2 linked regions of the Homo sapiens genome follow. The protein of the gene in region 2 interacts with the protein of the main gene of each other region in a pairwise test. Each region holds a gene or a part of one and is shown on either strand. Other genes may lie near its edges.

Region 1 (3,656 bases), about 130 Mb from region 2:
TCAGCTATTTATTTGGTTTTTAAAAGTGTTGGGTGGGTGCGGTGGCTCATGCCTATAATCCCAGTACTTTGAGAGGTCAAGGTGAGTGGCTCACTTGAGCCCAGGAGTTCAAGACCAGCCTATACAACACGGCGAGACTCCATCTTTATAAAAACGCAAAAACGCAAAAAAAAAAAAAAAAAAAAAAAGCCAGGCATGGTAGTATATGCCTTTGGTCCCAGCTACTCGGTCAGCTGAAGTGTAAGGATCTCTTGAACCCAGGAGATGAAGGATACAGTGAGCTGTGATCTCGCTGCTGGACTCCAGCCTGGGCGACAGAATGAGACCCTGTCTCAAAAAAAAAAAAAAAAGTGTTTTGAAGATGAACAACGTAACAATATGATTCAAAAACAGAATGAGATTATTTCTAGCCACTCCTCTGTGCTGAGTGGGAGATCGGTCCTAAACAGCTCAAACTCATCAGTGATATGAACAGATATATGAAAGTGGAGTAGTCACACCATTTTAATCACTAAATGCAAAAGCTCTGAAAAAGAGAAGGCAACAGAGGAGATGGGGTGAGGGATACATTATTTTTGGTGCCACAATCCCATGACTCAAAGTGGGCATATCATCCTTAAAGGCAGCAGAGAAAAAAATATAAAGCAATCAAGGTCAGTACTATGACTGTCTTCAAAGGCCAGGGAAGACAAGTGCCTTGGAAGGCTCATCAGCTGAGACAATTTGATGTCGGTTAAATGTCAAATTAAAGATACAGAGCCTCAATATTCTCTAAAAGTTGATTAACTTTTTTCAAGCTTCCATTGCCAGGATGCAAGGTGAGAGGCTTTGAAAAGTCACTACTTAAGCATCTGAAGAAATCCACAGTGGAAAAAGTCTAACAAGGATATGTGTATCTACTGTTGTATGTACCATCCTACTTATGCAGCTTGCTGGACAGCCAACTTCTTTTTCTTCTGGACTTAATTCTTGAGCAAGAGCCAAGTAAAATAATTATGCCCAAATCTAGTAAGCCTGGGGATAAACTAATCAGTATATCTGAAGAGCACACTAAATTTTATGAAGAAAAGTAACCTAATTACAGTATTTCACTTAACTATGTTTGTGAAATTTCTACTTGCCCTCCAAACTCCACAAGATGGTAGCCTAGAAACAGATAAAACAAAGTGCACTTTATATACATAAAACCCCAAAGGGTTAACAGTATCAGTGGGGAGATCTGGGAGAAATGGCCAAAGAAAAAGATTCTAGGAACATAAATGCTTACAGAACATGGACTGGGTCCATGAGATATATACAAGCATATAACTAGTAAGAAAATGTAAATAATTATTTGTTAAACCTACCATTAAGATCAATCTCTAAATCTAGTGAGGTTCAAGAGAGGCCATGAGGAATCGATGTGAAGAAAAAGGAGACTATCAATGATAAAACAGGAAGCTTTTAAGCAAATAATGTGAAGTGAATCACGTTCTCTCCTGTTCCCCTCCTCAACCCAGCAGCAATTTAAAGGGATTTTCAAAACACCTAATGAAACTAAACTGCCAAGACTGCTCAGACAGGAAGAATCATAATGAAAGTTGGAGGAAAGTGCTTTTTCATCCCAGTGTGGCCGATTTTTAAAGTGTATTTTGTGAAAACCACAAATAGAAGAGTTTAGCTAATAAACACTTCACTGCACAGGTTAGTGAAAACATTTCAATTTCTCCTTCCCCAACACTCCTCTAAAACAATACAGAATCTATCACTTTCGTGCCAGGTCCAGGATTGTTAAAGTTAAAGCCTACCAAGATTACCAAAATGCTTTTAGGCTATGAGATTGCAACACAGGTATCTGGGGTTTCAGTTGCAGAACACATGTACAATCAAGGCAGCCAAGGGTCATGACAGCCTGCAGTGACTTTAATAAGCATAGCCCAAAGGAGTCTAAAACTAGGCTTAGAAAACATCATTAAGGAGGCAGAAAAAGCAGTCAAATGAAACCTCTGGAGATCAGATGTAGACAAGGGTCTGAAAAAGGAAATTGGGAAGTTGAGAAGAATGCAAAATTTAATCACTTTAAAAAGTCACTTTTGAGGAGCCCCAAGGACCAGAGAATTTTTCTCTGAAATAAAAATGGGAAATAATAACATATACACCAGTGCTGAGTTCTTAGTCCTAGTTTTAAGGCATTAAGCTGCAAAAATATGACAGTCAGGTACAATACTGCACTGCCTAAGCTTCACACAGCACTACAAGCAGAATCCAGTACATGAAGACAGGAAGCAGTCTTAAATACACAGTGAAAGGGTACTTCCTTCAGCCACCAGTAACACAGATATAAAATCATTCCCAGAAGCTTAAAACATATACCTTACTTAAAATTCGTATTATATTTACTTGCATAAATAACCATTTAACTGTAGCGATTTGGAATATATGTATACTTTAAACATAAATGTTTCTGCCTCCTTCTTCTACTTACCACATCTTATCTCCTCATTTTTATATTATAAAGTCAGTAATTCTCTGAGGGAAGGGAGTGGAAAGTATGGCAGGGTGAGAGGTAGGGGTAAACCATACAGAATCCCCTTAAGGCTTTTAAAAACTACATAGTACCCTAACCTCACCTCACCTGGAAAATCACTGCCTGCAATGAGATATTACTATCGGGAGTGTCTGGTGCACATGTGTCTAGGCAGACACAAGGAGAGAACCCAGCCCAGAAAACCAAAGGACCTTAGAAATATAAGAGTTAGGTACTTAATAACTTATGTTCATAATTTTTAAAGTACTTTCATATCTATCTCATTTGAGATAGAAAAGACTCCCTCATATAGTGGCAACTGTCTACTTTATCATAAAATAGCACAGAGCAAAATACAGCTGTTAATGTGTCAGATGAACCACTAAAACAGTAAGCTAAAATTTAGCACAACAGAAATATTTTTACTTGAACAGAACTTAAAGTTCTTTGGAAACTCTAAACCACTGTACAAATTTAAGATGGTATTACTACGGCCTACTAGACTGTAAACTCCTTGAAGACAATGAGCCATGTGTTATCCTGTATCCTCCGCAATTCCCTGAACAACGTAGGCACTTCATGAATGAAATGGACTAGCTTATATTCATTTATTAATTTACTCACTCAACATTTATTGAACACTGAATGTCGACTCTGTCAGGCTCTGGGCTGGGTCAGATTTTTTTAAAACTACATCGAACTTTAGCCCCTAGTAAGATGAAAAGATCACTATTCCTATTTCCTTTCTCCTATTTTTAATTATTAACTGGACTAAAATATTTCTATAGCATGTTTCACTTTTCAAATGATGTTTTATATGTATAAATGCAGATTACATTAACATAATGTCTAAAATTAATTTTCCTTGCATCTCACCCCGAAACAGAATTCCAAGACAGCCATGATACTCACAATAAATGATATCATTTGACAGTCACCTCAGTAACAGTTGTTGGACTGCAGCCCATGATTTAAAAGTGAGTCCACAACAGGATTTTTTAAAGCAAGACCAAACAGCAACTGACCCTTTGTTTTGGCTACTCAACTTTTGTTTACAGTTGCACCAAATCTTACAGTATTTCCTGCCTCCTTAAAAAATTAACCACACGTTAAACTGTGATAGCAACAACATGGTAAATAGTATCTGTAA
Region 2 (3,756 bases):
ATTAATTGACAGTTTGGGTGCTACCCTTTGTGGTATCAGAGTCATGGACAGAATAGCTTCTAATCCTCATCATCCTTGGAATGAATGGGCTGGGCTTCTGGATCAGAACTGCCAATGTAAGCTGAGTAATCAATATCTTGACTACTCTATTATTAAATACATTCTTTGGAACAACATGAGCCATAGCCAGGTAATTCAGTGGCAGACTTCTGCAGGGTGATAAGGCTAGTATACTGTAATGTAAATGTCTCAGAGTGAGAATTCCAATGATGATGGCTTAAGTCATACACAAAGTAAAGATGATGCTAATAGTAATCAATTCATTTTTAAATTGCTTACCTATGGAGTCCACCTCTGTTGTAGAAACTGTTGAGGGGTACATAAATATAAGAACAAAGCTGCAGAATCAAGGATAGTTTACTGTAGTCATATTTGAAAATTAAGACTCATAAAGAAGTTACAGTTGAATGGCACTGTTTTAGAAATGCATAGGTCACGGAATAAAGCCTGGATGTTGAAGAAGGAGCGTTATCCAAATGAATATAAATTGTTCTATCATAATGACATATGAATGTGTATGTTCACTCCAGCACTATTCACAATAGCAAAGACATGGAATCAACCCAAATACCCATCAATGGTAGACTAGATAAAGAAAATGTGGTACACATATACCATGGAATAGTATGCAGCCATAAAAAAGAATAAGATCATGTCCTTTGAAGAAACATGGATGGAGCTGGAGGCTATTATCTCTCCTTAGAAAGCAGCTATAATTTAAAAATATTAATGCATTGGCATTTGTTTAGAGAAAATGACATGTTATAAGCTCTCCACCAGAAACTTCCTTTGCATTATTTCATTGACTCTCAGCCATCCCTGGACAATTGTTTTTATATTATCTCTATTACAGAGTTGACAAACTGAGAACAAGAACGATGAGGTATTAATGCTTTTCATAAGGTCATGCAGGTAATAAGTGGCAGAATCAGGTTTCTCTCTATGTCTGACTCTTTAACCAGTTACCTAATGGCTTTAATACAGAAGCACACGCACACACACACACACACACACACACACACTCTCTCTCTCTCTCTCACACTCACACACACACACACACACAACTATAAGATAGTTGAGGGTTGGAGGATTCTATGAAACTTGAGTTAAGCCAGGTTGCCCAGAGCCACAGAGGTAAGATTTGGGAGTTAACAAAACAGAGAACTCAAGCTCCAAGACTAAACAGATTAGGTATTCTCCACGGAGAACAACACAGGAAATGATGGTAGGGATTTTCCCACTCCATTTCTATTTCTAAGTGGCCATAGTCCAAGCTGGGAGCAGCTTTTCTGAGCCCCATGGAGGAAGGCAAGTGAGGAGCTGCCAGTCACCACCCACCTCAGAACCCATGTGGGTGTCAGAAGGCAGGTCCTCTCATGCCCAGGCCCTGTCTCACAGCTGGAGGCAGAGCCCAGGCCAGGATAAAAGGGCTCTGGGCCTGAGCACTCCATCCACTCACCTCCCGAGGTGCTGAAGGACCCTGTGCTGCCTGTGACCCCGGTAAGTGTTCTTTGAGAATAGTTGCTGGGGCTTCCACAGAGTGTTGCTCAGCCCTAGGCAGGAGGGGAGGCTGGGCAGGACCTTGAGGGCTGAGATCCATCTGGATAGAAGTCAAGACCTCAGAAAGATTGAAGGAGGATGTGCTCAGGAGGCAGGGAGAGGGCCAACTGGTAACACAAATAAGAATTAGATGTCTCTGTCTTTGTGCTTCAGCTAGTTGAGTTTTAAGGACAGAGGGAGTTGAAGCCCAGGCAAATAGACTCTGCTAGAACAACTTCAAATAGGACACTTACTTTTCAGAGCAAAACTGTGACACTCCTTGCAAATTTGAGCTGGAGATAGTAGTTCTCAATCAGTGGAGTAGAGATAATTAATGGATCTTTTAGGGCTTTTTGAAACTCACTTATCTCTAGATTCAAATTGGAATTGAGAATCTCTTAAAGTAGTTAGACATAGCAAGCTGAGGATCACTGTGCCAACATGTTACTGTGAGGCCGTTGCGTGATGAATATGGCAGTGCACCAGCCTAGAGCCAGGGCACCTGAGTTCAGATCCCCTCTATGCACCAAAAATACTGTTCTCCAGCATCTTCCTTAACAAAGGGAGCCTGTGAGACCAGCCTGTCTCCAAAACCATTTACAATTGTACATGCGCAGGTTTTTACAAGACAAAGTCTCCTAGGAAGTTACTCCAAGAGATAATCCTTCATTATCTTTTTCCAAGAAAATGTTTATATCCCCAGGTTTCCACACTGGACAGTTTCAGGGTTTTATTTGACACAATGAGAAAAACTGCTTCCTTTAATTTACTAAATGTTTAATCTTGACAGATATTTTTTCATATGGCTTACTGCCTCAGTTTCCTTCTTTGTAAAAGATATAGTAATTCTTGACTGTCTTAAGATGAAATTGTGAACTCAAAAGATACAGTGTGAGAGCATTTGCCAAACTACAAGAAACAACAAAATTTTCAGTGATTAATGATTTACCATGACATTTGAACAGTTCATCAAAATAAAGGAAATAGAAACAATGTGGAAAGGACAAGAATAGGCAGGGGTGGCCTCTGCCTAGGTCTGACTTGCTGTTTGACTCTCTTTCAGCTCCTGAATCCGCCACCAAGATGTCCTGCCAGCAGAGCCAGCAGCAGTGCCAGCCCCCTCCCAAGTGCACCCCCAAGTGCCCTCCCAAGTGCCCCACCCCAAAGTGTCCCCCAAAGTGTCCCCCTAAGTGCCCTCCTGTCTCTTCCTGCTGCAGTGTCAGCTCCGGAGGCTGCTGTGGCTCCAGCTCTGGGGGCAGCTGTGGCTCCAGCTCTGGGGGATGCTGCAGTTCTGGGGGAGGTGGCTGCTGCCTGAGCCACCACAGGCGCCGTAGGTCCCACTGCCACAGACCCCAGAGCTCTGGCTGCTGCAGCCAGCCCTCGGGGGGCTCCAGCTGCTGTGGCGGGGGGAGTGGCCAGCACTCTGGAGGCTGCTGCTGAAGTGGACCCTGAGCCTAGAAGAGCAGAATCCAGGACCGCAAACTGCCAAGGACATCCCCCTTCTCCTACTAGGCCTGCCTGAGAGGCTCACAGGTCCAAGGGAAAGCTCTGAACTTGCCAAGAGCATATCTTTTCCCTGGAGTCCAGAAACTCAGATCCTCTCCTGGATCTCCATTCACTGGCCTTGGACCTCACCTTTGTGGCTACCCTCCCACGCTCTGTCTAAGCCCCTAGCTTACTCAATGTCATTTGCAGCGTGCATCTGCTGATTAAAGGACTAAAACAAGGAATCTGCTCAGTGTCTTGTTCTATGAGGACCCTATTCTCCTTGAGTGGCTCTTGTTCTCTTCACCTTGTCCTCTGCAGTTGGTGGCCTTGGAACCTCAGGGGACAGTGGGGCACTCTGGAGTGAATTGGGGTTAATGGGGGCAGGAGTGGGAAGGGACCATTGCTCCCAACTCTGTCTGTCCTATGTCAACTGGCCTGAAGCAGCATTGCTTCTGACCAAGTCTGAACTGTCTCTTATAAACATAGCTTCTTTGTTTCTGGTCCCTTTCAAGGGCTTGACCAGTCTCTCCAAGCTTCTCTTTCTCTGTGAGTGCAGTCTGCTCCTCCTGACCTAGCCCCACCAATATCCTTCCTCCCTCACACACATCACATGCAAAAACACACACTTCTGCACATCTCCAGGTGCACACACAAACATGCACACACATG

Evidence for each region. The genes of interacting proteins can lie anywhere in the genome.
Region 1: the proteins of LCE1C (region 2) and MACO1 interact in binary tests that used the Homo sapiens proteins (3 or more experiments, as listed by UniProt).

Annotation. Positions count from the first base shown.
Region 1 is NC_000001.11:25,433,831-25,437,486, reverse strand, and holds part of MACO1 (macoilin), read right to left. Parts: intron 1-3,656. UniProt on the Homo sapiens protein: Plays a role in the regulation of neuronal activity.
Region 2 is NC_000001.11:152,804,405-152,808,160, reverse strand, and holds LCE1C (late cornified envelope protein 1C), read left to right. Parts: upstream 1-1,509; 5' UTR 1,510-1,560; intron 1,561-2,662; 5' UTR 2,663-2,682; coding exon 2,683-3,039; 3' UTR 3,040-3,329; downstream 3,330-3,756. UniProt on the Homo sapiens protein: Precursors of the cornified envelope of the stratum corneum.